2 separate regions of the Homo sapiens genome follow, and region 1 is linked to region 2. Evidence: fine-mapped expression QTL. A gene starts in region 2. The other region holds a variant in brackets. All regions are shown on one strand. Distances are from middle to middle. Region 1 has its middle 22 kb from the start of MAP9-AS1. Region 2 holds the start of MAP9 (microtubule associated protein 9).

Evidence for each region.
Region 1: its variant is fine-mapped to the expression of MAP9 in lung (TOPMed, PIP above 0.99).

The regions. Positions count from the first base shown.
Region 1 is chr4:155,323,334-155,340,303 of GRCh38, forward strand. No RefSeq gene overlaps it. Among named protein-coding and RNA genes, the nearest start is that of MAP9-AS1, 22 kb to the right of the region's middle. The variant T/C (reference allele first, on the strand shown) is at 9,253.
Region 2 is chr4:155,367,740-155,384,709 of GRCh38, forward strand. MAP9 (microtubule associated protein 9) reads right to left here and starts at 9,226. Exons shown (of 14, transcript NM_001039580.2): 1 at 9,032-9,226; 2 at 8,037-8,175; 3 at 7,198-7,282; 4 at 5,397-5,717; 5 at 847-1,073. The coding sequence starts at 8,111. It also overlaps the pseudogene YWHAEP4. RefSeq lists an enhancer at 8,679-9,108.

The DNA.
Region 1 (16,970 bases), 44 kb before region 2:
GCTCTGGTTCCAATAAGAGTGTTATTTGGCTCAAATCCACACCCAGATTAAATGAGACTCTAGAGTCACTCCTAACTCTTTATCAGGGCTTGGCTCCTTCTGAAAAACACTCCACTGTCTCCTTTATCCAGTTAGAGTTCTAGGGAAACTTATTTGATTAGCACTAAAACCCAGAGTCATAGTATAATATATTTCTTTTAGCAAGTCCTGCATTAAACAAATACTTGTGTATTCAGCATGTGCTATGACCTGGGTACTGTGCTGAGAACAGGGAACATAATCAGTGGGGAGCAGGGGAAAACTTGCGTGTCTTCTTTGAACTTATAGTAGATTTAGAAGAGGTAGACATATACATAGGGTATGGGCATAGAGGGCTATTTCTGAATGAGATGGATGTATAGAGATAAACAGTTGTCTGGGTGCGGTGGCTCACGCCTGTAATCCTAGCACTTTGGGAGGCTAAGGCAGGTAGATCACAAGGTCAGGAGCTCGAGACCAGCCTGGCCAATATGGTGAAACCCCATCTCTACTAAAAATACAAAAATTATCCAGGCATGGTGGCAGGTGCCTGTAGTACCAGCTACTCAGGAGGCTGAGGCAGGAAAATCACTTGAACCTGGGAGGCAGAGGTTGCGGTGAGCTGAGATCATTCCATTGCACTCCAGGCTGGTGACAGAGCAAGACTCCATCTCAAAAAAAAAAAAAAAAAAAAACCACTAGGCTAATCAATAAAGGATGAGGAGGAGTTAGGTAGGTAAATGCGGATGAGATGGAGAGAAGTTCCCAGGCAGAAGGGAGCAGCACCATGGGGAGGCCTGGACTGGGAAGCCTTGTGAGATCAGCTGTTGCTTACGTTCGAGTCACTGATGTGATGCTGCCACAAACCTCCACATCTGTGTGCATCCCCTTCCCTTTCCAAACCTAATCGCAGGCCTCTGGCTGCTGCCCTTTCTTGCCCCCCACTCTGTTCCCTGATGCAACTTACCTCTTCAACCTACCTCTGCTCCTTTATTTGCAAGCAAGGGAGACTGTATTAGGTAGAGTAATGACTCCCCAAAAGATGTCCATGCCATAATTCCCAGAAACTGTGAATATGCAAGGACATGCCAAGTAGGTAGTAAGGTTGTTTACAGAATTAAGGAAATTAATCAATTGGCTTCAATATAGAAAAGTGCCTGGATTTTCCAGGTGGAACCAATCTAATCACATGAGCTTTGGAAAGAAGAGGGAGGTGGAAGCGTGGGCCAGATGGTCAAGACACTAGAATGATTCCATACTCCAGTGTTGGCTCTGAACGTGGAGAAAGCAAGCCATGAACCAAAAAAACTGGTGTCCCATAGAAGCCAGGAATGGCCCTCAGGAACATACCAGCAACAAAATATGAACCTTGGTCCAATCCACAACGTGAATGAGCAGGAAGCAGATTCTCTCCTCAAGTTTCTGGAAAAGAATACGGCCTGCCAACATTGTGATTTTAGTCTAATGAGACACACACTGGCCTTCTGACCTACAGAACTGCAAGATAATAAATGTGTATTGTGTGAGGCTGCTCAAATTATGAGAATTTCTTACAGCAGCAATATAAAACTAATAAAAGGCTTTCTACTGGAAAATGGGAATCTTCTATCAGACCTGGGATGGCCCCAATTTCAAGGTTACAATATAGGTCACCTGAACTGCACCCCTAGGGGAGCAGTGTATACCCACAGCTCTACACGCTGCCTTGCTGCATGGAAATAACACCATAGCTTTTGCAGACATATTGAATTCAGTCTTCATCCTTCTATAAAGAATGGCCTCCAGGAATCACAAGAGATTTATTTGTGTGGTTCCAATATGTGCTTTATTCTGATCCCCTGTCCTAAAAAGTCTGGTCCTGAGTCTTGAGTAAGCTGATTTCCTTTAGTTTTCCCTCTGAGAGAAAGACCTGTTTTCCGCCTTGCTGAAGCACTTTCCCCTGGGCTTTGTGAGGGAGTTTCTGTCTCTCCATTTCAATGCTATGATGTTTATCTTCATGACTTGAAACCTAAACATACTTTCCAAAATTCTCTAACAATTTTTTTGCGTTTGGAGATAGAAGTGGGGCCAATAAAGGTGATAGTGTGGTCAGCTGGTGGGATTTTAGGGCCTCTTAAAATTTGCTACACATGATGCATGTTGGGCTCCACTGCCAACTGCCATACACCCATAGAGATGGAAAAAGAAAAAAATTTGTAAAATCAAAAGCACATTTATGTCCTTAAAATTTTAAGATGGCATTATAAAGACATCTCTGTCATTTTCTTCCTACAGAAATCAACTCACAATAACAGAAAAATCTAAAAAATAGAAAATACAAAATCCATCTATGATGAAACAAGGGGTCATCTTAGCCCTAAACAACAATATATAAGGAAAGGCTGCTAAGGAAAGATTACACTGGGGTCTAGGAAGACATAGAGCTCTCTCCATACCACTGGGGTGCATGCTACTGCAGATCTCAAACTAGCAAAACACCATCATTTTCTAATGGAAATGCATACCGAGGGAAAAAAACCTCTTTGCGTTTTGGCTTAAAGGGATTAAATAGAACAAGGTGCATATCTTACTGAGGTTATCGTTGAAGACTGAGTGTCTCTGTAGAGTAATAGGAGAGTTAGATCTAAGAGAGAAAACTGAAAATGTCATGACTGCATGTAGATGACACAAAAGTAGAAAGAAACTGAATTGTGAGCAGTTTAGACAGGCCAATCTGCTGTGAGTGCTCAGAAAAATATGCTAAGAAAAATCATGCTTATACACACAACTCCGTAACATCAGAAGTTTCACTGAGAATGAGACTAAAATCCTGCTCACTTTGCCTTCTCTGGTCCCTTTAGTACATAAATTTCCTTAAAATAACTGAACCAGGACTGACTTAGGTCATTCAAAGTGAATAATAATAAATAAGAATAATTACCACAGGTCTATATACCTTACTACTACCACTGCTAGTGGGGAAAAGAGGAAAGAAATAGAAGTGAGAAGAAATGATAGATGCAAGTATCTCCATTGAGGAAATGACAATCCATAACAATCTGAATTGTAAGTTTTCATGAAATTAACAAAAAACACAAACCAGAGATCTAAGAGGTTAAGGGAGATACAGAAAAAATACAGGAGGATGATAAACTAGTAGAGTTCCAGATAAAAGTGGTGCAAAACCATCACATAAATGAAGGTTACATTGAAACCAACAGGAGAATAGAATAGATGCCACTTAAATCCTAGTAATGACACAGAATGTAGGATTGAGAAAAGTGAGGATAGTAAAATATAGTAAGCAAGGATGAAAAGGATTAGAGAAAATATGTTAGATATAGATGGCAGACACAGAAAATGTGATGTATACATCATTGGGTCCCTCAATAAGCAATCTGATGAATTAAAGACAAAAATATCCAAATATATAATTCAAAAAACTTTCCAGAATGAAATCCAGTTAGGATCCACAGATTTTTTTAACAATGTTCTCTGCCACAGGAAAAACTGGTATAGAATGATCAAGCTGTGACATATCCAAGTATATATTACTAGGTTCAAACACTAGGAAAAGAGTCCCTTGATCATTTTTGCAAAAGGAAAAAATCACTGTCCTAATCAGCATGGGCTGCCATAATAAAGCCCCACAGACTAGGTGGCTTCATCAACAGAAAGTCCTTTTGTCACAGCTCTGGAGGCTGGAAGACCATGATCAGGATATCAGCATGGTCAGGTTCTGGTGCGGAGCAGCTTCCTGGCTTGCAGATGGCCACCATCTCATTGTGTCCTAAAATGGCAGAGAGTAAACAAGCTCTGGTCTCTTCCTCTTCTTATAAGGACGCTAACCCCATCCTGGGGATTCCACTGTCACAGCCTCATCTAAACCTTATTATTTCCCAAAGACCCCACCTCCTAATCCCATCACATTAGGGGTTAGAGTTTCAACATACAAACCTGGAGAAACATAGGCATTAAGTCCGTAACAGTTATCTATACAGCATAAAAATTGGTTCCAGTCTTATACCTCTTCATAGATACACTCACAGCACTAAAAGACAATGGACTACACTAAAGAAAGGAAAGAAACACCCTATAACTTTATATTTAGCGAAACTGTCACAAGATATAAGAGCCATAACCCTACATCTTTTTAAACATAAAAGAACTCAGGAAATATAATTGTCAACAAGATTGTTTTTATAGAAAGTACCACAGGGTAGCCTTGAGAAAACCAAGTAATGAATAAAGAAAGGAAGGGACTAGTGGTCAGTTCTGAGTTCATTTAACTCACTAAGAATTAATACTTAATTAAGCTGTGCTTAAGTACTAATTAAGCTGTGCTTAAGTATTAATTCCCCTCTGTGGTTGTAGAGGGGAATGTAAATGTTTAAAATAATGATAATGTAGTTCTAGTATAAATAATGCAAATTGGGAGAGGAAGTGAGAGATAAGGTAGAAGGTAGTGATGAAGACTGTTCTTTTCATAATAGATGAAAAATGTCACCACCAATAAAATTACACAAAATACTGAGTGGATCACATATTTACAACCTCATCACTGGCAGATGGAGTAACATAATTGAAATATTGAAGCAATTTTATTCTTACACAAACAGAGGGTCACATTTCAGGCTGACCTTCTAAAAAATATTTTATGTTGTAAGGAGCTGGATGAACCTCTGGCCGTTAGCCCATTTAAATTATTTCTGGAACCAATATAAATGAATAAAAACATTCAAATGTTTACATTTATCTCACATTTATCATGTTTTCTACTTTACCCTTATTAACACTCCAACTTTCCTCCCACCATGGAATTTGGTTAAAGATTATCCTAATTTTGAATTACTTCCAAGATTATTTTCTTAAAAAATAGTGCTTATTTTCTTTTATAGTAATTGTAATTTTGGGCAAATTTTGTCTGGCATTTACGGGTATATATTGGTATACACTGACAAAATTCATAAATGACTGCGTACCAATTTTGGATGGGATACTCAGTTATACATTTTGCTGGAATTTGTGAAATAATTTCACAAGAAGTTTTCCTTGATAAACAACACTGGAAAGGAAATTTGCAAAATTCACTGCATCATATATGTATGTATATATATATGTGTATATATATATATGTGTGTGTATATATATATGTATATATATACACACATACATACATATACCACTCTATGTTTTCTTGCAAAACTATGATCCTCTTTGGTCTATTCATTAGTGATACTGGGGTAAATTATTAAATAATGCTATGCATTAACATAGCAGCTTTCCCTACTGTGGCTAAAAACTCAATTTAAAATGATCTATCACTAGGCAAAGAGGGAAAAATCTAAACATACAATGATGCTACATTGTCTTCTGTGTTAACCTTGATTGCTTCTTGACCTGTGTGTAGGCGATATTATTAACAGTTAGAAATACTCTATTCACGACAGCTACAGGCAATGGTATCCTTGGAATGATAGATTAATAATCATAGAGTTAGCTAATTAGTTTAAATATTATTTATGTCAGAATCTAAGCTCATTTCTACTTATTCTGAGGCAAACTCTTTGAATATGAAATATGATTTCTCAGGACTCTTACAAGAAAAACATCATATATAAGATTCATATATGGAAACACAAGCTGATAAGTTAGGGAAAAATATTTTAAATTGGTTGATACATGGGAGTAGGGTGTGGAGAGGCTATTGATTGGGAAGGGACAAAAGAGAACACTCTGAGGTGATGGAACTATTCTGTGTGGTGTTAGGAGGGTACGTATTTCTCAAACAGACCGTATGAAATTCTTAATCTGAGCATTTTACTCTATGTAAGTTATACATCAATAGTAAATAATTCTTTAAAAACTCACTAAAAATTACCCCTGTAAATTCCACTTGATTTAGTTTATCAGTGAGTTTTGAAAATACAAGCAGGGATGGTAGCTTGAATTGAAAACACTATTTGAACACTAGGATTTCAAATCTGAGACTCCTAAGAATTTGATTACAAATTATTCAGTATCCATTTCACTCCTGTCAGACATGCATAAAGCTAAGATACTAACATTAACCAAACTTATTGGGCTGTCTGAAGAATAAATTAATTGAATATCTCTAAAACACTTAGCAATAGAAGCAAATCATTCTTTGTATCCTATATAGTTAAACTTGATGTGCAAAATGAAAAGTCATCACTCTCTTCGACACTTGTTATTCTCATTTATGCTATACATTACATTTATAGAGGTAAAACTATGTAAAATACATGTAAAATTGGGGACAGGTCATTGTTATTTTGCATAATTTATTTTTGGTGAGCAGAGAACCTTTTTGGTCAATTTATATAAATACTATAGTGTTTTTGTCATTATAACCAGGAGACCAATTTGTTGAATTGGACAGCTGGAAGCAAGGAAGGGAAAAAGTATTTCACCGAAAAGGCAGAAGACTGGCATCAATTGCAAGCTGTGGAATCAAGACAACTTTGGCTGAGTCCCATTTTATATAGGACTAAAGGAGAGTGCAGTCCTCAAAGGCAATAATATTTATGAGAACAAAGAAGACTGTGGAGAAATTTTAGGCAGTAGAAGAGAGCAGAAAGGCCAAGAGGATCAGGGTTGAAGTAAGCTATATAGCAAATCAGGCATTGCCCAGTTACCTGGGAATTACATTCAGGCAAAGCAGAAATACCTGAAGCTAGTTGCTTATACAACCAAATATTGAGAAGTAAAGATATTTTCATCTAGAACAATCCTAAAAATCACTCTTGTTTCTAAAAGGCCAAAGGTAGTGGGCAGGTATACAAAGAAAGGGATATTTATGAGAGAGGGCCTGACATTTAATCTATTTATGTAAGTGACATCAATACATATTGTCAAGCCTGGATATGACATAATTAATCATTAATACAACCTAATTGCAGAAGTTCTTTTTAAAAATAGAGTTATGTCTCAGAATAAAGAAAGATCCCTAGCTCCAACACTTATTGCCTCTATTTTCTTGGGCAAATTACTTCAACTCACTAAGCCTCAGTATGCTACAGTAAAATATAGATAATAATAGTACCTACTTCATAGGATGTTTGGGAGGGATAATGATAAAATGCTTGCAAAAACATTTAGCATTTAGTACTTAGAATAAAGTAAGCACCCAATAGATGTTAAAATCTGACATATACACACACACACATATATACACACATATTTACACATATTTGCATGTGTGTATATATATATACATATACACATAATATAAATATTTAGCAAAATAGAAAAATTTGACAAATATACATTAAAAACTCTACTTGTTACTTATGGAAGAGACTGGCTATCTACCACATCTGTTTCCCTTTCCTTCTGGGTCCACAGCTATCTTATGTGCCTTAAAGTAAGGTATTGCAGGTATGGAGTTCCTGCCACTGGCATGAGTAGCATGAATGTGTGCTGCTTCTAGATCTGGCAGGTGAAAACCTTCCATGAATTCCTCTACCTGTTCTGTTTCCACCCTGCCAGCTCAATGTTGGGAGTCATTTTCCAAAGAATGGCAAGGCTCTGATCATTGGAGACTCAGAAAGGTGGAGGGATGGCAGAAGGGTGAGGGATGAGAAATTACCTAATAGGCATAATGTACACTATTCAGGTGAAGATTCCACGAAAAGCCTAGACTTTACTGCATGCAATATGTTCATGTAACACAATTGCATCTGTATCCCTGTAATCTCTTAAAAAAAAAAAAAAAGAATGGCAGGGCTCAAATCTGACTGCAGGAACTGAGTGCTACCACTACCACCATCTCCACCCTTGGTTTTGTTTCCTAGAGTTTTAAGTACTTGAAAAATATACTTCTATTGCATTAAGGCCATTGAAATTTGGAACGTTGCCTATTGTAGTAACTAGAGTTACCTTGACTAATACACTGCTGAATCCAAATGGTGTATACATTATGGAACACCAGTTTCAAGTTTTTGCTGAGTGTATGAATAGAATAAGAGTGTGTCATTCAGAATTTTCTTTGGTTCCTCGTAATAGAACACCAGTTGCCAGCAGCTTTAAAACCTAGTTGTTTATTTTTATTATAAGAATGTAGGTCCAGAAATAGCAGTTGTTGCTTTATTTCAGCAGTCAATATATCTGGAATTCCCTTGCTTTTCCCTCATTATTACCATATGACTGCTGTGGTTCCTACCATCATGTCTATGTACAAGGCAAAAAGAAGGTAGAAAACCTCACTGTATCTGTCCTTTTATTAGGAAATTCAAAGCTTACTTAAACTTAGAAGACAACTCAAGTTGCACTGGCAGAATTGTGTCATCTGGTCACCAATAGCCACAGAAAAGATGCAAAGTCAGCATTTGACTGGGCACCTTATTGCTCTAGACATAACTATGGTTCTGTTATCAAAGAAGAATTGAGGAATGGCTATTGGCTAAGTAACTGACAATGTCTGTAACTTATAGTGGTAACAATGAACTCTAACCTGACTGATTTTTAGTTCAGGCTATTTGTCTATACAGCTGATATCAAAAAACCCAGAAAAGGTCAGAAGGGACTGTGTTTTTACTAAATTCCAAAAGTTAACAGAAATAATTATAGCTCTGAAAAGGCTATAGGTTGTCACATGCTTATAACTTCTGCTTCCACATGGAAAGCCACTTGACATCTGAAAACCCTGCTCTCTGTTCACGGGCTTTCTTTGTTTTTGTTCACCACATGATGAGACAGAGACATAAAAACATTTTATCTGTTAACTTTTAAAATAACTTGAAAGGAAAAGGGAAAGTATATTTGAAATTATTTGGGTTAAATCCTTAAAGTCTCTAATATACTATATATTTAATCACGTTTTAATGTTTTCATTTTCTTTTTCAACTTTTCTTTTAGGTACAGTGGGTACATGTGCAGGTTTGTTGCATGGGTAAATTGCAACAAACCTGCACATAGGGTTTGGTGTATGAATTATCCCATCACCCAAGTCTTGAGCTTAGTACTTGATAGGTAGTTTTTCAAACCACATCTTCTTCTCTCCATTCTCCTCTAGAAGTCCCCGGTGTCTATTGTTGTCATCTTTATGTCCATGTTTACCCGATGTTTAGCTCCCCCTTATAAGTGAGAATATGCAGTATTTGGCTTTCTGTTCCTGTGTTAATTCATTTAGGGTAATGGCCTTCAGCTGCATCCACGTTGCTGTAAACTAGTTAATTTTTGTTGTTGTTACTGTTGTTGTTATTGTTGGAGACAGAGTCTCACTCTGTCACC[T/C]AGGCTGGAGTGCAGTGGTGCAATCTTGGCTCACTGCAACCTCTGCCTCCCAGGTTCAAGTGATTCTCCTGCCTCAGCCTCCTGAGTAGCTGGGACTATAGGCGCATGCCACCATGCCCGGCTAATTTTTTGTATTTTTATTAGAGACGGGGTTTCACCTTATTAGCCAGGATGCTGTCAATCTGACCTCGTGATCCACCCGCCTGGGCCTTCCAAAGTGCTGGGATTACAGGTGTGAGCCACTGCGCCCGGCTCTAAAGTACATAATTTTATTTCTTTTTATGGCCACATAGTATTTCATAGTGTATGTGTACCACATTTTCTTTAACCACCATTGATGGGCATCTAGGTTGATTTCATGTCTTTGCTATTGCGAATAGTGCTGCAATGAATAGACAAATGCAGGTATCTTTTTGGTAGAATGATTTATTTTCCTCTGGTTATATACCCAGTAATGGGATTGCTGGGTCAAATGATAGTTTTATTTTAAGTTCTATGGGAAATCACACTGCTTTCCACAGTGGCTAAACTAATTTGCACTCCCACCACCAGAGTATGTGTTCCCTTTTTTCCACAACCTCACCAACATCTGTTATTTTTTGACTTTTTTTTTTTAATAATAGCCATTCTGACTGATGCGAGATGGTATCTCGTTGTTTTGATTTGTATTTCTCTAATGATTAGTGATGTAAAGCATTTTCTCATGTATTTGTTGGTTGCATGTATGTCTTCTTTTGAGAAGAGTCTGTTCATGTCTTTTGCCCATTTTTGGATGGAGTTGTTTGTTGTTTGCTTGTTGAATTGTTTAAGTGCCTTAGAGATTCTGGATATTAGACCTTTGTCAGATGCATTGTTCGCAAATATTTTCTCCCATTCTGTAAGTGTGTTTACTCTATCGATAATTTCTTTTGCTGTGTAGAAGCTCTTTAGTTTAATTAGGTCATGCTCATAGATAGAAAGAATCAATATTGTTAAAATGGCCATACTGCCCAAAGCAATTTATAGACTTGGTGCTATTCTTATCAAACCACCAATGTCATTTTTCACAGAATTAGAAAATAATATTATAAAATTCATATGGAATCAAAAAAGAGTCTGAATAGCCAAAGCAATCCTAAGCAAAAAGAACAAAGCCAGAAGCATCACACTACTGACTTCAACCTACACTAAAAGGCTACAGTAACCAATACAGCATGATACTGACACAAAAACAAATACACAGATCAATGGAACAGAATAGGGAATCCAGAAACAAAGCCACACACCTACAACCATCTGATCTTTGACAAAGTCGACAATAACAAGCAATGGGGAGGGGACTCCCTATTCAGTGAATGGTGCTGGTATAACTGGCTAGCCATATGCAGAAGATTGAAACTGGACCCCTTTCTTTCACCATGTTAAAAAAGTAACTCAAGATGGACTAAAGATGTAAGACCTAAAACTATAAAAGTTTCATAGAAGAAAACCTAGAAACACCATTTTGGACATCAGCCTTGGCAAAAAATTTATGACAAAGTCACCAAAAGCAATTGTAACACAAACAAAAATGGACAAACAGGGCCTAGTTTTAATTTTTAATTAAATTAAAACAGGTAATAGTCTTGTTTAGTTTGAGTGTTTAAGTACAATGAAGAACACATCGACTTGTTTTCTCATCTTATTGGGAATTTCTAAATAAGCAACTCTGCTATATGACTCATTAATAAAACATATACTTTTGCCCTGTGAAAAACACCTTGAAGCTGCTTTTATATATTTATGACAGATTTCACTTGCTGTCATGACTCATGGATGGTAATAATTATAATTTATTTGAAGGTCATTGTTTTCTTTTCTTAGTATGGGGGTAGTTTTAAATGAGACATTCAATCTAAGCTGAAAATTTTAATGTACTATATATATATATCTGGAGTATTTATATTTTCTATTTATTTTCCTTGTAAGTATTTTCTTCAATTTAAAAATTATTATGTGTAAGTATATTTGCATAATATATTTTCTGTGATTACTTGTTCATTTATAGTAAATTATAATTATTTTAATGAATTTTCATATAAACATATTTGTTACTTAGGGAAATTTATCCAAAGCCTTGAATTTTTTGTTTGTAAATATTCCAAACAAACATTAATTATTGCCAACTTTTACAGCTGGTCAATATTTTTTTAGCAAGAGCAGAAATTTATACCATTGTCCTGAAAGGACCTTAATAGATATCAAGTAGTCTGCATGATATACAGACATTGCATTTCAACTTTATAACTCAATATTATGGTTTCCTTATTATATTGTGCTTGCTAAAGGGGAAAATACTAACATTATTGTCAGCATGGCACACATAATTTTCACCTAAATTAGTTGATTTCTGCAATGCTACCATATCTGCTGCCTGTAAAAGCATAGGAAGCATAATTCCATTTCATTTTTTATTAAATGATTGTTGCAAATAAGTTATAAATTCTTCTATCTTAAAAACAAATAAAGCCAGCCTTGACCCCATATCCCCTTCATCTATGATTCCCTCTCCAATTTTCTTTGTTCCTTGTTAGCAAAGCTTATCGAAAAGTGGCCTATACTTAGATTCTGATTGCCTCTCTCCCTTCTTTTTCTTGAAAACACTAACCAGGTCTTCATCCCCATCACTCTGTTGAAATCTTAATTTCTTAGGTCAACACTGACTTCCATATTACCAAATAAGTCAATCATCAGTCTTCTGATTACTTGGTCATTCTCTTTCTTGAAGCACTTTATTTCATTGCTTTCCAAGGAATGCACCTCTCCTGGATTTTCTCTAACCACACTGGCTTTTCTTTCTCAGTTTCAGGTGTTGAGTCCCTTCATCCTTCTGACCTCAAAATGTTGGGTTACCCTAGGGTTCAGTCTGGGACCCCTTTTCTTTTTTCTCTTTCTTCTTCTTCTTTTTTGTTTTTTTTTAAGGTGGAGTCTCGCTGCGAGACCCAGGCTGGAGTGCAGTGGTGCGATCTCAGCTCACTGCAACCTCTGCCTCCCAGGTTCAAATGATTCTCCTGCCCCAGCCTCCCGAGTAGCTGGGACTACAGGTGCATGCCACCACGCCCAGCTGATTTTTTTATATTTTTAGTAGAGAAGGGGTTTCAGGATACTGGCCAGGCTGTTGTTGAACTTCTGACTTCAAGTGATCCATCTGCGTCAGCCTCCCAAAATGCTGAGATTACAGGCATGAGTTACCGTGCCCAGCCTTTTTTTTCTTTTTTGACACAGGGTCTCTCTGTTGCCCAGGCTGGAGTGCAGTGATGCAATCACGGCTCACTGCAGCCTCAACCTCCTCTGGCTCAAGTGATTCTCCCACCTCAGCCTCCCGAGTAGCTGGGACTACAGGTGTGCACCACCACACCCAGCTATTTTTTGTGTTTTTTGTAGAGACAGGGTCTCCCGAGGCTGCCCAGGCTGGTCTATAACTCCTGAACTCAAGCAATCCACCTGCCTTGACCTCCCAAGTGTTGGGATTACAGGTGTGAGCCACCACACCTGGCCAGGGACCCCCTTTTCTTCTTAATCTATACCCACTATCTAGATGATCCCATCTAATCCCATCTGTATGCTGATGACTCCCAAATTTACATTTCTGGAGTTTTGTTCCTTGATTTGAATATCCAAACTAGCTACATGATACCTTCTTTTGAAATTAACTTTTCCAGAATTCTTTGTTTTCCTTTCCAGTCTTGATTTCCCAGTGTTCTCCATTTCAATAAATGGTACCACCATTCATTCTGTTGCTCAGTGCCATCCCTGATTCTATTTTTTTCCACAGCCTCATCCAACACATCTTGTAGTTTCTCCCTCAAAACACAACTGAAATTTGATGACTTGGCATTCTGTGCAACTACTCTCATCTTTTTTCTGAACAACTGCAACAGCTCTTAAACTCTTCACCCTTGTTCCCTAAAGTCTATTGTCTACGTAGGAAAATATCTATGTTACACGATCTTGTGCAGTCACTGCTATTAACTCTCCAATTTTACACGTGAGACTTAAAATGAAATCCAAGTCTGTGCCATGCCTTATGAGGTCCCACAGGTCAAATTCACATGGTTATTCTCTAGGTATTCACATGGTTTGCTCATTCACTCTTTTTAGGTTTATCTCAGTATTCTTTAGACAAACTTCTGATAATCCTATGTAACAGCTTCTATCACTCTATCCTCATACCCTGCTTAGAGGTTTTCGTACTTTTAATCGGTGAACATTACATTACATATGTACTTGTTTATCTGTTCAGTGTTTCTCTTCCCTATGAAAATAAATTGCATGAGCACAGGAACTTTGCTTTTTCCATTTATGTATACTCAGTACTAAGACTAGCACTTGACATATCTCATCTATTTACTGGGCTTCCATATAATAGATAATCATTACTCTGACCAAAATCATTCCTATATCTCACAAAAAACTATGTATTTTTGGTGTCCTTGGAATTTTTTTCTTTTTTTTTTTTTTTTTGCAAGACAGAGTGTTGCTCTGTCGCCCAGACTGGAGTGCAGTGACACGATCTCCGCTCATTGCAGCCTCTGCCTCCTGGGTTCAAGCAATTCTCCTGCCTCAGCCTCCCAAGTAGCTGGTATTACAGGCGTGTGCCACCACAACCAGCTAATTTTTGTATTTTAGTAGAGACAGGGTTACGCCATGTTGACTAGGCTGGTCTTGAACTCCTGACCTCACGTAATCCACCTGCCTCGGCCTCCCAAAGTGCTGGGATTACAGGCACGAGCCACCACACCTGGCTGTCTTTGGAATATTTACTAAACTTGCCCACTACCCAGGGAGATTAGACATTTTCTCTTCTTTTAACAAAAGAAGATATCATTGAAAATGTTGACAACCACCTTTATAACTAGCATGGAGAAGATAAGTTGACCTGGACAGATCTTCTTTGTTCTGGAAAGAGTCACAGCTTTGGTTATGTACTCTGAGACATGAGTTACCTGATTATCTGGGAATGGTAGAGCTAGTTCCCAATATTTGTCATAAGGTATCAGAAAAAAAATTGTTATTATTAATTACCCTGAATGTTTTAAGAATGCCTATATCAGGCTTGGTTAACACAATTGCCTTTTCTTTATATAAAAGTAAAATTTAAAATTATTAGAAAATAATAAACCTGTATCAAATGTCACAATAAGGTGTTTGAAAATGTATACTGGGTGATATGACTTGGCTCTGTTTCCCCACCCAAATCTCATCTCAAATTCTAATCCCCACATGTTGACAGAGAGACCTGGTGGGAGCTGATTGAATCAAGGGGGTGGCTCCCCCCTGCTGCTCTCATGATAGTGAAGGAGTTCCCATGATATCTGATGGTTTTAAAAGTGGCAGTTTCCCCTGCATGCTCTCTCTCTCTTCGGCCACCTGTGAAGAAGATGCTTGCTTCTCCTTCACCTACTGTCATGATTGTAAGTTTCCTGAGGCCATCCCAGTCATGTGGAACTGCAAGTCAATTAAACCTCTGTTGTTTATAAGTTACGCGGTCTCAGAAGGCAAGAGTTGAGGTTTGGGAGCCTCTGCCTAGATTTTAGAGAATGTATGGAAACACCTGGATGTCCAGGCAGAAGTCTGCTGCAGGGGTGGAACCCTCATGAAGAACCTCTGCTAGGGCAGTGCAGAGGGGATTTATGGGGCTGGGGCCCCTAAAGGGTCCCTACTGGGACTCTGCCTAGTGGAGCTGTGAGAAAAGGGGGTCACCATTCTCCAGATCCCAGAATGGTAGATCCCCTGACAGCTTGCACCAGGTGCCTGGAGAAACCACAGACACTCAGCGCCAGCTCATGGAAGCAGCTGCAGGAGCTGTATCCTCAAAAGCCACAAGGGCAGAGCTGCCCAAGTCTGTGAAAGCCCACACCTTCTATCAGAGTACCTTGGATGTGAGACATGGAGTTAAAGCAGATCATTTCAGAGCTTTAAGATTTAATGACTGCCCTTCTGGGTTTTGGACTTGCATGGGGTATGTGGCCTCTTTGTTTTGGCCAACTTCTCCTATTTGGAATAGGAACATTTACCCAGTGCCTGTATTCCATTGTATCTTGGAAGTAACTAACTTGCTTTTGATTTTACAAGCTCAGAGGTGGAAGGGACTGTTTGTTGCAAAGGCATGATTGGTTTTGAAATGTGAAAAGGACATGAGATTTGGGAAGGGCCAGAGGCAGAAATGATATGGTTTGGCTCTGTGTCCCCACCCAAATTTCATATCAAGTTGTAATCCCGTGTTAAGGGAGGGTCCTGGTGGGAGGTGATTGGATCATGGAGGTGGTTTCCCCCATGCTGTTATTATAACAGTGAGAGAGTTCTCACGAGATGTTTGTTTGATATGTCTGGCATTTCCCCTGCTCTCTCTCTTTCTCTCCTCCACTATGTAAGATGTGCCTTGCTTGCCCTTCACCTTCCACCATGATTGTAAGTTTCCTGAGGCCTCCCCAGCCATGTGGAACTGTGAGTCAATTAAATCTCTTTTGTTTGTAAATTACCCAGTCTCAGGTACTATCTTTATGGCAGTGTGAAAATGGACTAACTTTGCTTGTGTGACTTTTTAATATCAGGTTTTATATTTGAGATGTCCACATGCAATCCTGATCAAGACATTTAAAGAATATCTCATCAAACCTTTAGAGACCAAACATTTTGTTAGCAAAAACAGATAATACAATTTTTGAAAACATATACTGCATCATCAAATCCTTACCATTGGATCATATTTAAGTAGCCAAGCAGCATTCTTTTCTTTCATTAACAATTAAAATGCTAAGATTTCATGTGACAAAGCAAACTTCAAATCCTGTTGAATATTTTGTGAAATATAGTGTATCAAGATAATCATGGAGTTCTGGTTTGATGAATGGCACTTCCATGGTTGGAATGGATAGTGCAGTCACCTTGCAGCTAGTTTGGATGCCATTAAAAGCTCACACAAACTATGAAAGGCAGTATATACTTGAAGATAGAGAACTGTACCTTCCAGGAGACTCCATGTAGCCTCCAGGCACCACCCAGCTTCTATTAGTCTGGCCATTAGGCTGGCCACCATAGTGATGCACAACGGATGAATAACGTACTCACTGATTATTCAGTGAAAGAGCAGCTAGGGTGCCGGGCCATGCACAGAAAGAGTTGTGGCAGCCCCACGCCTTGACTAGCTGGCCCTGTGGGCATTTATTCAGCACAGATTAATGACAAAGGCTTTGAGTCAACAAACCTGTGGATAATTAACCTGGGCAGCCTTCCCAGAGAGAGCCATCCTGCCTGCGAATGATCAAAGGTTAGTCTTAGGACCACATGAGTAAACAAGCTATTTAGATAAACTCTGTTATATTCCTTTGTATCTGTGCCCTGCGCTCTCTGGCTCCTGAAAAGAGAATCTGGCTGCCTTCAGCCAAATCTTTGACTGAAGCTATGCAAGCCCCCTGGCCTTCCAAGAAGGTTTGTGTCTATTTCCTATAATTTTTCCAACCACACCGATTGATCCCCTACAGTGATGTTTTTTGGGCATCTGAGAAATTAACCCCTTCAGCAGCCCACAGGCCCCTATCCATGGGAAGTAGCCTACTCCACAGCTGGCTACTGAAATGGATTTCATATGACTGAGGATCTTCATGGCCGAGGTAGAGCAATGACTGCCCATGTCCCTCGCTTTGTAGTAACCTGCAAGTACAAAATGGCACACCAGTAAGCCCGAGTCTCCATATGGC
Region 2 (16,970 bases):
TACTTCCAGTCTGAATTAGGGGGATTCCCCCATTTAGTCATTGCACAAAAGAGCTCCTCTCAGCACCTTCTGCCTCACCTCCCAGAGAGCAGATCCTTAAGCACCAACACTGCAGACAAGCGATGAGAAAAAGAAAGAAGCTTGGCCAGGTGGCATGCAGTTCCCTAATCTGCCCAAGCAGATTATGGGGAAGAAATGTTCTTCCTGTACTTTTCCCTTCTGAAATGTTCAGAAGGGACAGTTTGCTTCTCATAGTGAAATACAAAGAGAAAAACGAAGTGTTCTCCCTTAATAACAATGCATAGTAAATTCCCTGATGGAAACCTGAAAGGCCACATTTAATGCTATTGGAACATAACCCAAAGAACACAGAAGAGTGCCATGAACATTCAACACACATTTGTTGAGTGAATAAAATCAAATAAATAAAATGACACTGACTATATTGTTCTTAGCCATAAATTACATAATTCAAAGATACATAAATTTAAAAAATTATTAAAGATAAACACTATTATATAGATTCAGAAAAGCAACACTTTTTGACATTTTACTTTCTCTAAAACTGGATAAACTCTACAATCACTGGTGTGTTATAGTTTAATTGGATGCATTTCCTTCTTCCTTAGTGGTATGTAAAATAATGCTACGTCTTACAATTGATGCAGTTTTAGACTCGGTGGAATACAGTGTATTTTTAAAAATTATTTCCTTATCAGTTGCAGAAGAAAGTATGTAAAACACACACACACGCACACAAATTCATTCTCTCCTTCTCTTTTTCATAATCAGATAAAAAAGCATAAATTCAAGAACACAATTCAACAGTTTAGTGGTAGTGCTAACCTCAGGATCAAGGTTTTCAGAGAATGCTTTTTTCTCAGCTTCTAATTGTATGCCATTCGGCGTTGGAAGGGAAGAAGGTGCAGAATGTAACTCCAATTCTTCACTGAGGGCAGTTTCTTTATCTTCTAGTCCATCCTTCTCCTCCATGTGACTTTTCTTTTTCAACATACTCCTTGGCCGAGGTGATGGTTTAAAGTGATCATCTGTGTCAAGGCTGTTGTTTTCTGCTGAAAAATAAAATGCTTAAAGTGTGTGTATAAAAAAATGACCATGGCTTTATCTATCTCTCTGGGTGCTACCATACTTCCCTCCTGTGCCTATGCCCCTTTGTTCTCTGTCCTGAAGAGTCCAGATGAAGCCCACAACTCTTCTCTATACAGAGCTCTAGTAAGGCACAAATAAATGATGGTTAATAATCAGGCCGGACGCGGTGGCTCACGCCTGTGATCCCGACATGTTGGGAGCGGTGACTCACGCCTGTAATCCCAGCACGTTGGGAGGCCGAGGTGGGCAGATCATGAGGTCAGGAGTTCGAGACCAGCCTGGCTAACACGGTGAAACCCTGTCTCTACTAAAAATACAAAAAAATTAGCCGGGCTTAGTAGCGCGTGCCTGTAATCCCAGCTACTCAGGAGACTGAGGCAGGAGGATTGCTTGAACCCAGGAGTCTGAGGTTGCAGTGAGCCGAGATCGAGATCACACCACTGCACTCCAGCCTGGGTAATAAGAGCAAAAATCCATCTAAAAAAAAAAAAAAAACCAAACAACAACAACAACAAAAAAAAAACAAAGTAAAGAAACAGTTGTCATCCTGAAAGTAACCAGTCACAAGAAGTTAACTCTTCAACATTGTGAACTCTTATAATATTAAAAAAAAAATGTTAAAAATAAAAAAACAAAACAAAATCTTGCCCCAGTTTCTACCACTATAAAATGAGGAGGCTCATCCATCAAGCCTTTGAGTACCAAGCCCTGTACACGTTACTAAACCTCATAATCAACAAAGCGGCAATGGACCTGTCCAGGTACTTTACAGGTTGATTTTTCTAAACAAAATTACAAGACTAGATTACTAAGATTATAAGTGCTATTATAAGGACAAAGATGATGATGTTGGCACTCAAGGGATAGGAGTGCTAACTCTCATTAGAGGAAGGAATCTTTTATGAGTTAATTGTTCTGAGTCCATAAAACTTCTTTAGCATTTATTAAAATTTCACTCTTTCCATTACTTCTAAGTTTAAATCAAGAATCAAATGCTGATTTGCATCCAGTATTCGAAACAATGGGAAGACTTTCCATGTATATATTTTTTGCCTGCATTTTACCTGCTATACATATTTATGTTTCTATTGTTCTACAAATGCATTTTTCTCAACTTCAAAATTGGTCTAATTAACATCTTCCTCCCATTTACCTAAAAATGGGCTTATGGATTCTGCCAGAAGATTCCACAACCATACCAAATTGGTATTATTATAAGTAGCTGACAATTTTAGCTACATCCTAAACTCCAGCCAAATGTTCAACCCCAAATCCAAGGGCTCTAGATTCCTCCCTCTATTATCCCCTAAATCCAGAGTATCAATATATCCTATCAATTCTAATTGCCAAATATCTCATTTATTCCACTTTCTACATCCCTGCTGTCGGGTCCTTATCCACTCTTTCCTAGATCACTGCTTCCATGATATTTACAAAATCCAAATCAGATCACATCACTCCTTTCTACAAAATTATTCAATGGCTCCCCATGATCCAATCCTACAGAATAAAAGCTTAACTGCCTTTAAACAACATAAAACGGATTTTATGGTTTTGTCCTTCACTGCCTTATCTACAGCCATTTTGTCATCTGTGTTTCTGAAATGCTGGGCTAACAGTTGTCATGCACACATACCACAATCCCTCCAATCCCTCCTGCTACCATACCTTTACCTAAGCTGATCCCCCTGCCTAGAATATCCACTTCCTGCTTCTCCTCCTGACAAATGCTTGCATGTCTTTTGAGCCTCAGTTTAAGCAGAATATTATATAATGCCTGAAAGAAGGTGTTGAGTCAATTTTTTTTATTATTGTGGTAAGAACAAACATGAGATCTACCTTCTTAATACATTCAGTGCAAAAGACAGTACTGTTAACTATAGGCACAATGTACAGCAGATCTCTAGAACTTACGCATCCCGCATGACTGATACTTTATACCTGCTGAGCATGTTTATAAACAAACGCTAAATAATAAAATGAATAATCAGAACATTTATAGAGTGCTAAATTTATGCCAGTACTATTCTAAGCACTTCAAATATGTGAACTCATTTAATTGCCTCAAACTCCTAGAGGCAGGCAACTATTATCCCGTTTTTAAAGATGAATAAAATGAGAACAAAGAGGTCTCATGCCCAAAGTCACAAACTCTAGCAGGCTGCAGATCTCAGATTAAAGGAGAAGCATCCTGACTCCAAAGTTCATGATTTCAGTCATGTTAGTATTAAAATAAAAACATATCCTGTGAAAAATACTTTCACTTTATAGAGCAACTGTCACTTCAGTAGTGACTATAAAGTCTGGTTATTATACTTTTTACAAAAGACAAGCAAGGACAGAGAAAACCTTCAAGCTCTAATAGTTTCATAAAGCATTACTTGCTACTCAGCAATATCTCACCACATTAAAAACATTGAGTTCCAAACCTGTACAGAAAAAAAAAAAGTCAAAGAATTTAGAGGATAAACTCATGAACCATATTCCCTCTTTCAAAGATAAATCATTCATATATTAATTTATTCATTTAAATACTTATTATATATGCCAGATATTATCTTAGGAACACTAGCCTCAATTTTTACTTTTCAACCTGAAGAACCTGAGAATGACAACTTTAATATATTTTCTACAAAAATTCCACTTCCAGAAGTACTGTCAAGTTCCCAAAAAGAAAAAAAAATGCCTATACTTTAAGAAAAGCGCTTTTTTTGGTAATCAATGTATACAATTACCTATTTAGGTAATTATTTTTATATTACACGTACTGAATATAACATTGCATATATAAGTAGAGCATTTAGGATCCTGATGCCACCTTGTGGTTAAAATACAGTATTTTCTTATTCATTGTAACCCACCACAGGTTTTTTTTTTTTTTAAGGTATGAAATAGGTGGATTATTGCTTTCCTGATTATCTACCATAAACTTCTAATTATATACATCCACCTGTCTCAGACAAATTTTTAGTTGCTATATATGCTCGCATTTTCTTAATAACGAAGTTCAATTATGTTCCTCTTCTCTCCAGCATTGATTTCACTCACTATACTTAGAAGGTACATTTTAACAAGTTAATTGTTTCATTATGCATCTGTTTGCATTTTTGTAGTTTTTTATAGTTTATGAGATGCACTTCAATAAACTCTCACAATTTTGCAGGAATAGAAAGAGGGTTATTTTTAGCTTCCTCATCATGAGGATACTGAAGCTTAACTTATTTGCTGAAGTCATATATAATATACAGAGGCCTTTCCCCCAGTGTCCTGGATATTATTCTAGTGTTCTTTGCTCTGCTTACATCCTTTGCTCATTTCAAAGTTAATGAGATTGTGGGGTCAGGAAGAAAGGAGCAGTTCCCCAATACATGCCTGAAATAAAGTTTTGTCTGACGTTACCACTGGTATCTAATATGCAAAGTATGAAATATTTACCAGCACTGTATTTACTGATGATATGCAAGGAGATTTTTATGAAGGTTAACATCAACTAATAATTCCTTTATAAAATACAAAGAATGAAAAACAAAAAATCCTTAACCTTGCATATACAAGTTCATGAATGGTGGCCCAGGGTATGTGACAGGACTTGGTCTCCGTTTCATTCTATCTTTGTTCCTTTATGCTTAAAATTCAGTAAAATTGTGGGCAGAACTAACTGTAATCCCAGATCACACCAGGAACTTTCCTTTGGAAAACTGAATCTTAGTAGATTTTCATAGGCAATACAGAGATCAAATGGAGATTCTCTTAAGGAGTGCCTGGATGCTTCAACAAACAACAGCAGCAATAACATAACTCATCCTTCAAATATACAAATGTCAAGAAAATTTTCTGGCACAATGTTGGTATGGCAAAGACTGTTAGAAGGATTAGTCTCAATATTGCTGTAACTCTAATCTTTGGAGTGTGAGAGGGATTAGACAGCATTCCATTCCAGTTCCACACCTACAAACAAAACTGAAGCTCACAGGTCTAGGTGTCTGGAGATCCACAGCTATGGATGCTATGGATGACTAAAGGTGCTTTGGCTTTGTGCTTTGGCTTTCTATCAGGCAACAGCCTAGATGCAAGACAAAATACAACAGGTCTGTAAAATTGAAGTTAGACAAAATACAACAGGTCTGTAAAATTGAAGTTAGACAAAATACAACAGGTCTGTAAAATGGAAGTTAAGTCTGTCTTTTTTTCTTAAATATATACTAGCTACCATATAAAAATTTTGGGACTGATTATCTTAAAATAAACTTCCAAGAAATGCAATTACAGTAATCCTAACAAATTACCTGAAGATGTGCTTTTAATTGAAAGAATTCTGGGTTTAGGTTTCATTTTTATTTTGTCTTTTTCAAATTCCTCATCCTTATTTTGAGATTCAGAGAAAGATTTTACAACAATGTCTTCACACCCATCAGGTGCCATTTCCTCTTCATTTTTGATGGCACACACTGGCTCATCTTTGGTTATGTTACCGTTTGATTTATTGGTTTTCAAAAACAATAGTTTTGAAGGATTCTTTTCTTCATCATCTGATATATGAAAGTCATTCATTTTTTTATTAACTGAATTTTCATCTGCTGAAGTGTCAGAAAAATCACCTAAAGAAACTGAAAAATGGAAAAGAAAAATGTTTTCAACAGTATTTTTAAAAATTGTCAAGGTTACGTTAACTTAATCAAAGTTTACCTTAAAAGCTACAAACAAAATTCTAACAATGAATAGGCACAAATGTATTTTATAAATAGACTTGCAGCTCTAAAAACACAGCTAACTCAGGCACGTCTCATTAACATTTATGAAATAAAAATTCCAATTTCATTAATTTATTCAAAATGTATTTATTGTGTTGTCTGTAGGGTACCAAACAACCAAACACTGTTTGCTCTGGAAAAAGCCATCCAAAGGTCCCTAACAATCAGTCATGTAGCATTTAAATTAGATTATGGACTGTAAAACTTTTATTTGCAAATTACTTCTTCATGTAAAATCAAGAACATTTGTAAATGGAAGAATTTAATTAGTAATTACTAATTATATTTTTTCCATAAAAATTTTGGAACTACAATTCCATCCACACCAGAATATTAGATTTACTAAGAATCATAAGAAATGCTAAGTTAACTATACAGCAGTGATTTAACTGTGGTTATTACTGGTTTTACAGAAATCAATTACAATTATTCACCAAATTTTAAAGAATAAAACACCAGGCCGGGTGCGGTGGCTCACACCTATAATCCCAGCACTTTGGGAGGCTGAGGCGGGCGGATCACAAGGTCAGGAGTTCGAGACCAGCCTGGCCGATGTGGTGAAACCCCATCTCTACTAAAAATACAAAAATTAGCCGGGCATGGTGGCGGGCACCTGTAGTCCCAGCTACTCAGGAGGCTGAAGGAGGAGAATCACTTGAACCTGGGAGGTGGAGGTTGCAGTGAGCCGAGATTGCACCACTGCACTCCAGCTTGAGCAACTGAGCGAGACTCCATCTCAAAAACAAAAACAAACAAACAAAAACACCAAGTTTAGAATTCTGTATGCTTATACCTGAAACTAAAATGTTAATATGTTTACATAGCTAAGAGAAACCAAATTATAATAGTACTGATATATGAAACACGAAGAGTCTGTGGTTTTTAAATTTACCCCTTATCACAGCCAAAAAAAATCTGATTTATAGCAAGCTTTATAAAAGCACTTCTAATGTGCACCGAAGTTTAGTTCTGTGGGACTAGTTACTAACTAGCTGTAGCACCTCCTAGGGTTGATCTTAAAGATGAACCTGTCTTCTTCAATGTGGTTTACCACTGGCAGCCATCCTTTTACTGCAAACCTGCCATCAATTAATTTATATTTTCGTATACACATTCAGAAAACAAAACAACAATAAAAAAAGAAAATCATACAACTTCCTGAAAATTAAGAGTGGCTTTCTACTAATTAAAAAGTTGAAAATCTAAAATTAGTGAATGCTTAGGTATTATTTTAACATACGTGATTGAGGGGATGGGTGGTTGGGGGGCTGGCTAAATACAAAACTAAGGAAGCAAAAAGAAGAAAAGTGGTTCACGTTTCCATACTGTCACATACCAATCTCATCACTGTCAAAGTCATCTGAGTATTCAGAACTCCTTTGTCTGGCTGAGCGAGCTGTAATTGCTCTTATTAGCTCATCCTGAAATGAGATACTGAAATCAATTTCCATCCAAACATGGAGGTATCATATTCACAAGTAATTCTTTAAACAAACAATGCTTGATTAACGACTGCTTTCAAACTTAGGTTTCATTCATCTAACAAATATTTCCTGCAAGCTCACTTTATGCCATGTACCCACTTTACGCCTCATACTCAATGCAGAGCATCACAGACAAGAGCCCTTCCTCATGGAGCTCGCAGTTTAACTAGAGGAGACACACATTATGGAACAAATTAATTGCAGGTTATAATTAGAGCTGGAGGGTAACAAATAAGAAGGGGCTCAATTTAGATTATAATTTATTAAAAACTGGTATTTTGAAAGAAATTGGTATTTTTAAGAGCTTTTGTCTCGGCATATTTCAGAAATGGATGCAATCAATATTGCAAACTTAGAGGCTGAGTTCAAAATTGCAGTGACTCAACAGAAAAAAAAACTTAAACATTATGTTACAACAGAAAAAAAAGTTTTTATATAAAAATGGCAATTTAAGGTTGCGATTCAACTTTTAACTTAGTAGGAAACTAGTATTGAGGCTACTTTGGTAGTCTTAAAACCATATAGGGGAGTTTGTAATACTGGATGGAGCCCAAACATGATCATGTGCAAAACCTCAAAAGTAATATAAGATTTACCCCTGCTTTATATAGGACTGTTCTAGAATCACCAATTTCAACCCATCTAATACAGTGTTTACACTGTGAAATGATTCCAAATAAAAATACTTTACCTGGAAAGTAGTTCTTTTGGTAACTTTTGGACTCTTTGTATATGCCAAAGTGGTGCTAAAAACTTCATCAGACATAGTGTATTTTTTCTCGTTACCTTTATAAAATAGCTAATTATTAGAATTCAACTTCTGATAGTAGCTGAAATATACAAAACAAATCAGACTTCGCATGCTTCAGAATTTATTTTATTACATTTGATTCTACTCTCCCCACAAAGGTCAAAGAAAAGCATCTGATATGAACATTGGGCTACATCTTCACTTAAAAAGGTTCTTGTAAAGAAATAGCAAATTCTCATAACAAGCTTGTTTAAAAAAATTCAAATGGAAGTTATCCTAAAATAGTTTTGCAACTACTTAAAAAGTCTGCAAATAAATGATTACAAGTTAATACGACAAAATGCTGCCAATTAAAATAGAACACCTTATTTTTCACCTCTCTTCTAAAGTATAACATTGCCTTCAAAATAAGTCACGTCTTATTTAAAAGGCCATCAAAAGGATCGTCGGCGTAAAAATTATGAGCACCACCACCAAAAAAAAAATGTATCTATATATTTGCATACAGCGCTATTCAAAGAAAAAGATCGTAATGCTAACCCGCAAACAGCCAGCGAGATGTATTGCAAGCCAATTTTTCCTCTCACAAAAGTGTTAAAGAGAGCCAGACAAAACGACGAAGCTTTCGCGATGAGCCGCATTAAAATCGCGGTTTCCCGTACTCGGAGCAGAGGCCTGGCAGGGCCGCCCATAGCGTTGTGCGCCCCGGGTTCCGTTCCCTACCAGGCCAGGTGACGTCCGGGTGCTCGCCGCTCCTCACCGCGCCGTATGCTGAGCACCAGCGAACGCCAGGCCCGTGCACGTCCAAGCGCGGTCTCTGTCCGGATCCCCCATGGCCCCCAGGTCCCGCTTTCTGTTCCCGGCCCCGGACGCCCGCGGCCAGTTCTCCGCGACCCTGAGAATCAAGAGCCAAGCATCGGGTAGGAGCTGCTCACCTTGGTCTGGGCCTGGCGGCGCCCGCAGAGCCGGTCCTGGACCGAGCGAGGAGGAGGGGCTAATAACAGAGGCGGAGGGCGGTTGCTAGGAAACAGCGTCTTCGGGAGGAAGTGACTTCCCCACCGCCGGGTCTCTCGGGTACCCAACACCGCTCTTCGGCCCAACGTGTCGCTGGGGCAACCACCCAGACGAAGGAAGTGACATCACCTTCCTGGGTCTTTGGAGAGGGGCTCATTATTGGTCGCTTGTGTGCATGTGCTGTTGCCTAGGAGACAGGACCCGCCCAACTCCCACCCAGATAGCCTTACTCTTGCCAATAGAGTAAGGGTCCTTATCTGCACGTGTTGCAAATAAAGCACATTCGTCGTTTTGCCACAGTTAGGACGTGAAGTTCTCTGAATCGAAGTACGGTGTCAGTGGATGGGACAGAATAGTACGGTAGTGAGTTTGCAGAACCCTGTTTCCGACTGCAGGTTTGAATCCTGGTACCCCTTTCCTACACACGTGATTGTCCCAAGTTAAGGTCTTTATGACTCAGTTTCTTCTTCTGGGGGAAAACAAAAGTGTACTAATAATAGACACCTGAAAGGTTGCTGTAAAATTGAATGAAATAATACAAGTGGAACACTTGGAAGAGTGCCTGGAATTGTATTCGATATTAGATATGCTCTTCATGCAACTAAGCCGCAAAGGGCCTGGAGAGACCTCAGCTCTTGTGGACACAACTGAAAGCCCATTTGACATCTTACTTGAATGTAAAACTCCCCCTCTTTGTATACTTAGTGAGTAATCTTATTCCAATCAAACCAAACAAAATGATCCACTAGGCTAAAAGAGCATGTGCTACTAAAGTAAACAAAATCAACATCATTTAATTCGCATAGGAAATTCTTAAAGCAAATAAAAACCAAAAACGTTTATTGAAAGTCTTTAAAATAATATGAATTTTTACTATTTTTAATTTTTAAAAAGCTTAATCCTAGTTGAATTATCTGAATGAATTCATTGACTAGTAATTAAACTCATACCTGGTATTTTTTCCACATCTCTAAAATATGTTAATATTTCACTAATTCAATTTTGTATAAACAAATCACATTGAGATAGAAATTTAATAAATCAATGTATTGAAAAACTAAATGTGCATAACAAGAAATAAGAAATTTAGTAAAATACAATGCTGTATTAATCAGGGTTCTCTAGATGGACAGAACTAATAGTATATATATATTATATTATATATATTATATAATATATTATATATATAATATATATTATATAATATATTATATATATATGTCCACTCATCTGTATCCATTTATGAAGCTGAAAATGTACACCACCTCTACACACACATACCCAGAATAGAAAATGCTCCCTATTTTCTATTAACTCATGGCACTACTGTTGAACCCTTCCAGGTTCACCTCATGCTCCTGGAACCTCCTTTCCACTGTAAAACATTCTCTCACTTTTTCCTCTATAATCGCATTCTTATCTTAGCTAAGCAAAACTATTTTCTGAATAAACTATCTCCCTGAGGGCTTTTCAAATAGGGACTGCTGTAGAAGGAAGATTTCTAAGTTCTCCTAGGTCCTCACATACTCAGTGACTGCTCTCCTATTACTCCAAACCCTTCCTCCTCACAAGCCAATATTCTATGTTCTATTTCTCAGTTTCTGTCATCAATAGATATATAGGCCCTTCTCCCACATTCACTGAATATCTACAGCCAACCTATCCAATACCTGAGATCACACCAAGGTATGGTGTGGCCATGTTCCATTCAATAGAATTCTTTGCTCAATACTCCAAGACTTTCACTTGTCCATACCCCTAATTGTGGGGCTCCGTACTGGAAGTCTTAAACTGTAATACTCCACTCCAAAAGGCCCATGGCTTCCTTTTTTAGTTATTCTTCTCTTGTTATTTCTATTTAGGAACTCATCAAGACATCTAGACTCTTTTTTTTTTTTTTTACTTTTTCTTTCTTTCTTTTTTTTTTAATGCATGTATCTCATCTAAGATGTCCAGACTCTTGAGCTTTTCACATCTTCCCCCAATTTATCAGTTGCTCTCTTTGCTTCCTGCTTCCCTTTCCTAGCTAGCCCAAGTCCCACAATGTAGCTTATGGAGTTCTTTCTTCAGCACTTTCAACTTTCTCACTTCATCATTCCTCTGGGACACAAAACTTGTCCATTGATCATCCAAATTCTTTGACCCAACGTATTTCAGAGTAATAGTGCATCAATCCCAGCTTACAATTTTATTTTATTTTTAGAGACAGGATCTCACTTTTTTTGCCCACTACTGGGCTCAAGCGATCCTCCTGCCTCCATCTCCCCAAGTGCTGGGATTACAGCCATGAGCCACCATGCCCGGCCCCAGCTCGCAACTTTCTGTGTGACCTCAGGTATGTTACTTAGACACTCCTAACCCCAGTTTGTGCATTCATAGGTTGGGATAATACCAACCCCTTCCAGTGCCATTTTAAAGATTTCATACAATACTTTGCACAAATACATATGATAAAATTATTTCCCCACTCAGGACAGTGCCCAGTAGAGCTGGTGAGTCAGTAACTGTGGTTCCCCCGCTTTCCCTCTCCTTACCAAGCTCACCTTCCACCTTCCCTCTAATTCCCGTCCCTATTCTCTTTCATGTGTTTACGTGCCTGTCTCTTCCACTAGAATCAGTTTCTTAACAGCAGCAGTTTCTCAAAATTGACAGTTTGAGCAGAATCATTCTTTGCTGTGGGGGCTGTCCTGTGCATAGTAGAATGGTCAGCAGCATCCCACTCTCCACCCCACTAGATGCCAGTAGCACCCTCCAAGCTGTGACAATCAAAAATATCTCTAGACATTGTCAAATATCCTCTGAAGGACAAAATCACCTCAATTGAAAACCACCGCACTAGAGTAATGGCTATCAAACTTTTTTGAACAAGACCTACAATAAGAAACATTTTGTACATGTATATACACACACAGTATGTGAAATAACTTCATCAAATCATTCTTTCCCTTACGGTGTCCCACTCTGATATGTTCTATTCTGTTTAAAAAACAATGACTAGACTGAGCCTCAACAAGAATAGTAATCTTATCTGTTTCATCTTTACACTCACAGTACCTAGGCAAATTTTGTGGCACACAAGAGGAACACAAATACTTGTTAAATTGCAATGAATAATCATTTCTGGTAGTCAATAAAGAGTTTTAGTTAACAGAAGAAAAACAAAAATTCAATTTGTTTTCTGGTTGTGCCGTGTTCAAAATTGAACACCACCCTTGGCAGCTTCCAGGAGAAAAAGTTCTTCGCCTTTGCTCTAAAATATTCTGTAGCCTAATCAATGTGAGCAAAAGGCAAAAATCTACTAAGGTATAAAATGTTTTTATATACTACATATATAATGTAGTATATATGTATACTGATTATACATATATGATGTATACATAGTATATATGTATACTGTACATATGTACATAGTATATATGTACACTGATTATATATATACTACATATGTAATGTAGTATATATGTATACATATATATGTATATATGATTATATATGTGTATATATATGTATATATAATCATATATATATACAACATATAATCATTTTATGATTATATACTACATAGATAATCATGTGTGCACTAGGCAGTGACCTAAAATGCCAATGACTATGGCCAAATTACTGACAGATACAAGCCTGTGACTTAAGCCAGCCACTCAGAAGAAATAAGCCTCCCTTTCCTTGGAGACATTTTCTAAAACTATAAAAATAAAAGGCAGAAATTAGTACATATTCATGTAACAACTACCCCCCTCCCTAAAATAACTTCTGTTGTATAAAACCCAAAGATTAAAAACTACAACATTGGATAGAAAAGCTGAGTCTTTCAATAAAAAGAGGAATGGGACAAATAAACTCAACATTTTTTTAAAAAAACACTCATCATTTTTCCTGAAAGTACAATAGTTCCTCCTTATCCAAGAGGGATCCATTTGGAGACCCCCCCAGTGCATGTGCTGAAACCATGGATAATACCAAATCCCATATATACTATGTTTTGTCCTATGCATACATACCCATGGTAAAGTTGAATTTATAAACTAGGCTCAGTAAAAGATAAATAACAGAATAATTATAACATACTGTAATAAAAGTTATATGAATGTAGCTCTTTTTCTCTCAAAATATCTTATTGTACCGTACCATAGGTAACTCACACTGTGGATAAAGGGGGACTACTGTACAACAATCTCACCATTTGCCAATATTCCCGAACCGGTTTTAGCTTTTCTCCTCCTCCCTTGTTTGTTTCTTTTGGTTCAATGCTGCTGATTATTCTCTAAGAGGCTCTTCTAGCTCCAATCACATTCTTATATCAACAGATAGGAGGTTCTTCAACTGACAGCTACACATCCACCCCTGCTACTTTCTTCATTGCCTCCACAGTTTCTATAAGGAAAAGGCAAAATCTTCATACCTGCAGAATTAGCGCCACATAGATGCTGCCAAAGGGTTTTCTGCCTGTGCCCTCTGGAGAGGTGACATCACATCCCCCACTGCACCAGGGCCCATTGAGCAACACTTGGAGCAACCAAGGGGTGCCACACCAGAATGTGGGGACCAGTGACTTCAGGGATTGCTGGGAAGCAAGCCCCAAGGTCCCCAGGGCACCCTAGGGCCTTCCTTGGAAACTGTACTGCCCTCAATGCTCTGGCAACATGGTCCTGTGATGAGAGTGCAGCCCAAGCAATTTACAAAACACCTTCCGGGTTGCTCTTTCATTGTCCTGGTGAAGAGTACAGTCCTGATCCATGTCTCCTGATTCACAACCTTTGTGTTCTCTCCCACACTTTATTTGTTAAAATATGGACAGGCTGAGAAGAATAAAAATTTCCCAAATCTTTAAGTTCTGCTTCCCTTTTGATAACTTCTGTCTCTAAATCATTCCTCTTTTCTTTCATTTTCCCATACACATTCAAGAGAATCAAGCTGCTCCTTCAATACTTTGCTTAGATATTTCTTCTAGCAAATTTCAGTCTCATTATTCATAAGTTCTGCCTTCCAGAAAACACTTGGGCATGAACACAATGCAGTCAAGTTCTTTGTCACTTTGTGACAAATGTCGCCTTTCCTCCAGTTTCCAATAACATGTTCTTCATTTCCATCTGAGACTTATCAGAATGACCTTTCTTTTCCATATTCTTTTTTTTCTTAAGAGACTGGGTCTCCCCTATGTTGGCCAGGTTGGTCTTGAACTCTTGGCCTCAAGCAATCCTCCTGCCTCAGCCTCCCAAAGTGCTAAGATTCCAGGCATGAGCCACCACACCCAGCCCCCTCCATATTCTACAAACATTCTATCCAGCTCTCCTCATCTGAGCTCTCACCAGAATCACCCTTAATGAAGAGTCACAAGGAGAAGACAGCCACCCACACCTCAGGAGACAGGCCTGGAAAAAAGCCTTCCTGCACCGCCCTCAGAAGGGACCCGCTTGCTGACAACTTGATCTTAGACTCATGGCCTCCAGTAATGTGAGACAGTAAGATTCAGTTGTTGAAGGTGCCTAGTCTGTGGCCAGTCTGTAAGACAGCCCTAGCAAACTAACACAGCCTGTTAGCCCACGGATGGTGAAAAGATGGAGTGCGCAATGGAGCTCCAGGCTTACTGTCTGCAGTTCCCAAAGTGTGCTATGGGACCCTTTGGTGGATGTAGGTATGAAAGATAATTTTGGGTGGTGCAGGGTGAATAATTTCAGTTTACATAATAATGTAAGTTCACAAGCTTCCTGGGGAACCTAGTGACATGAAGGCACTGCAGAGCCTCCCCAGAAGAGGTGTCAGCTTTTGGTGGATCCTTGAGCCCAGGAAGGCAATAGGCGAGACATCACCGTTCACCAGAAAACACGATCAAAATCCATTGAGGAAGGGCAGCAGTCAAAGGTTTTATTCTCTAGAAGGAACTCTCAAGAACTGCAAGCAGCAGGCAGAAGACTTCCTTGCATGTGTGGTTAGGCGATGGTGACCTACGGTTTTCACTGCGAACTGGGATCGAGTGACCCGACCTCCTACTCATGCACCTCTCTCCCTGTCTCTCTCTGCCTTTTAGTCTCTCTTCCTATTTCTCTCCCTACTCTTCCTCTCAGGCTCCTCTGTCTCTCTCCCCATCTCTCTTCCTCTCTCTCTATCTCACTCCCTTCTCCCCATCTCTTTCTGTCTCCTTCTTCTCCACTTCTGTCTCCCTCCTCCTCTCCCTCTCTGCAGCTGTTCAGGCAGGACTCCTAGGCCACCTTTCAGGGTACCTGCAGGGCAGCAGGACCTTGGCCCCCATCTCCCAGCACCCTCAAGGTCAGGGGTGTGCGCCTTTCCATGCTCTCCTGGGTGGGCACCCCACACTCCAGGAAGCAGAAGCTGCAGGTCACTGCTGACTCGAGTGGCACACCGACGGGGTGCTTCCACTTGTAATTGTGACTTCCATCTTGTGATCTGCTGAGGTCAAAGCAGAGGACACATGCTCAGGCCGGACCCTGCACCAGGGTGGGGGTAGGGGTGGGTTCGGGGGTAGAGGCGGGGATGGCAGCAACCACTGCAAACTGTCCCCTGGCCGGCTTCCTGTCCTTCACCTGCCATGCAAGGCCCCCTCTCCCGCCCCTCCCCCCGCCTCCCACCACCTCCACCCCTAGGCAGCCCCAGACCCCGGCTCCAGAATTCCCCCTGGATCCAGGAACTAAGAGCAACCCATGGGCTCTGCAGCCCCTAGGCCAGGTGTCAGCTGCCCCTGCTGCATGCTGAAAAACCTTGGCTCTCACTTATGCCCCGACCCAAGCCAGCCACACACCCCCAGCGTAACCACCTTCTCCTGACTTTAGCCCTGACATCCCTGCTTTCTAGTAATCCCCAGCTCCAGGCAAGCCCGAAGGCCAGCACCCTACACTCACCCTTCCTGGGTGCCACTCTTGTCTGCTTGCCAAGATGTCTTGATCTGGCTTTATCAGCATAGAACAAATAAAGGGCCTCTCCCAGGAAGGTTTGGCAAAACACTCTCCATTTAGAAGCAGGGGCAGTGACAAGACCTAGGGATGACCCGAGGTTTGCCACTCAAGCAGCAAGAAGGGCAAGGAGCCAGTTTCATGTCCTCATCCTGGAAGGATGGCCAGGGCTCCACAGGGTCCTGTGGGGGGCTGGCAGGAGCAGATCTGCCCTCCTCTTGAGGAAGCAGGCCACCACCACCAGGAAGCAACAGATGGTAGCGTACAGGTAGAGCCCCCACGTGCTGTAGAGCAGGGCCAGCAGATCTGCACTCAGCCCAGCCCCAGGGGAGCTGCAAGACAGACTGAGACCCCGATAGGTTTGGCTCTGTGTCCTGACCCAAATCCCATCTTGAATTGTAATCCTCATGTGTCAAGGGAGGAACCTAGTGGGAGGTGATTGGATTTGGAGGCAGTTTCCCCCATGCTGTCCCCCTGATAGTGAGTGAGTTCTCAGGAGAGCTGATGGTGTTAAAATGTGGCACTTTCTCATTTTCCACTCACTGCCTCCTGCCGCCTTGTGAAGAAGGTGCTTCCTCTTCACCTTCTGCCATGAATGTAAATTTCCTGACTTGTGAGTCAATTAAACCTCTTTCCTTTATAAATTACCCAGTCTCAGGCATTTCTTTATAGCAGTGTGAAAACAAACTAATACAGACCCCTTCTCTGAAGTGTCTTCTCCTTGGGCCATCAGCTGCCCCCATGCTCTTCCTCTGCCCCATGGTCTTCCTTTTCCCCTCATTCGGCCCAAGTGCTCCACATGGCCAGCCCCAGCCCCATCCTACTGCAGGCCTGTCTGGCTGGTGGAGAGGCTGGGCTCCTTTCCTGACCCCAAGGATGGCTGACATGCTCTTTGGATCTTGGAGGAAACTGACCTCCCACCCTCATACTGGTAGCA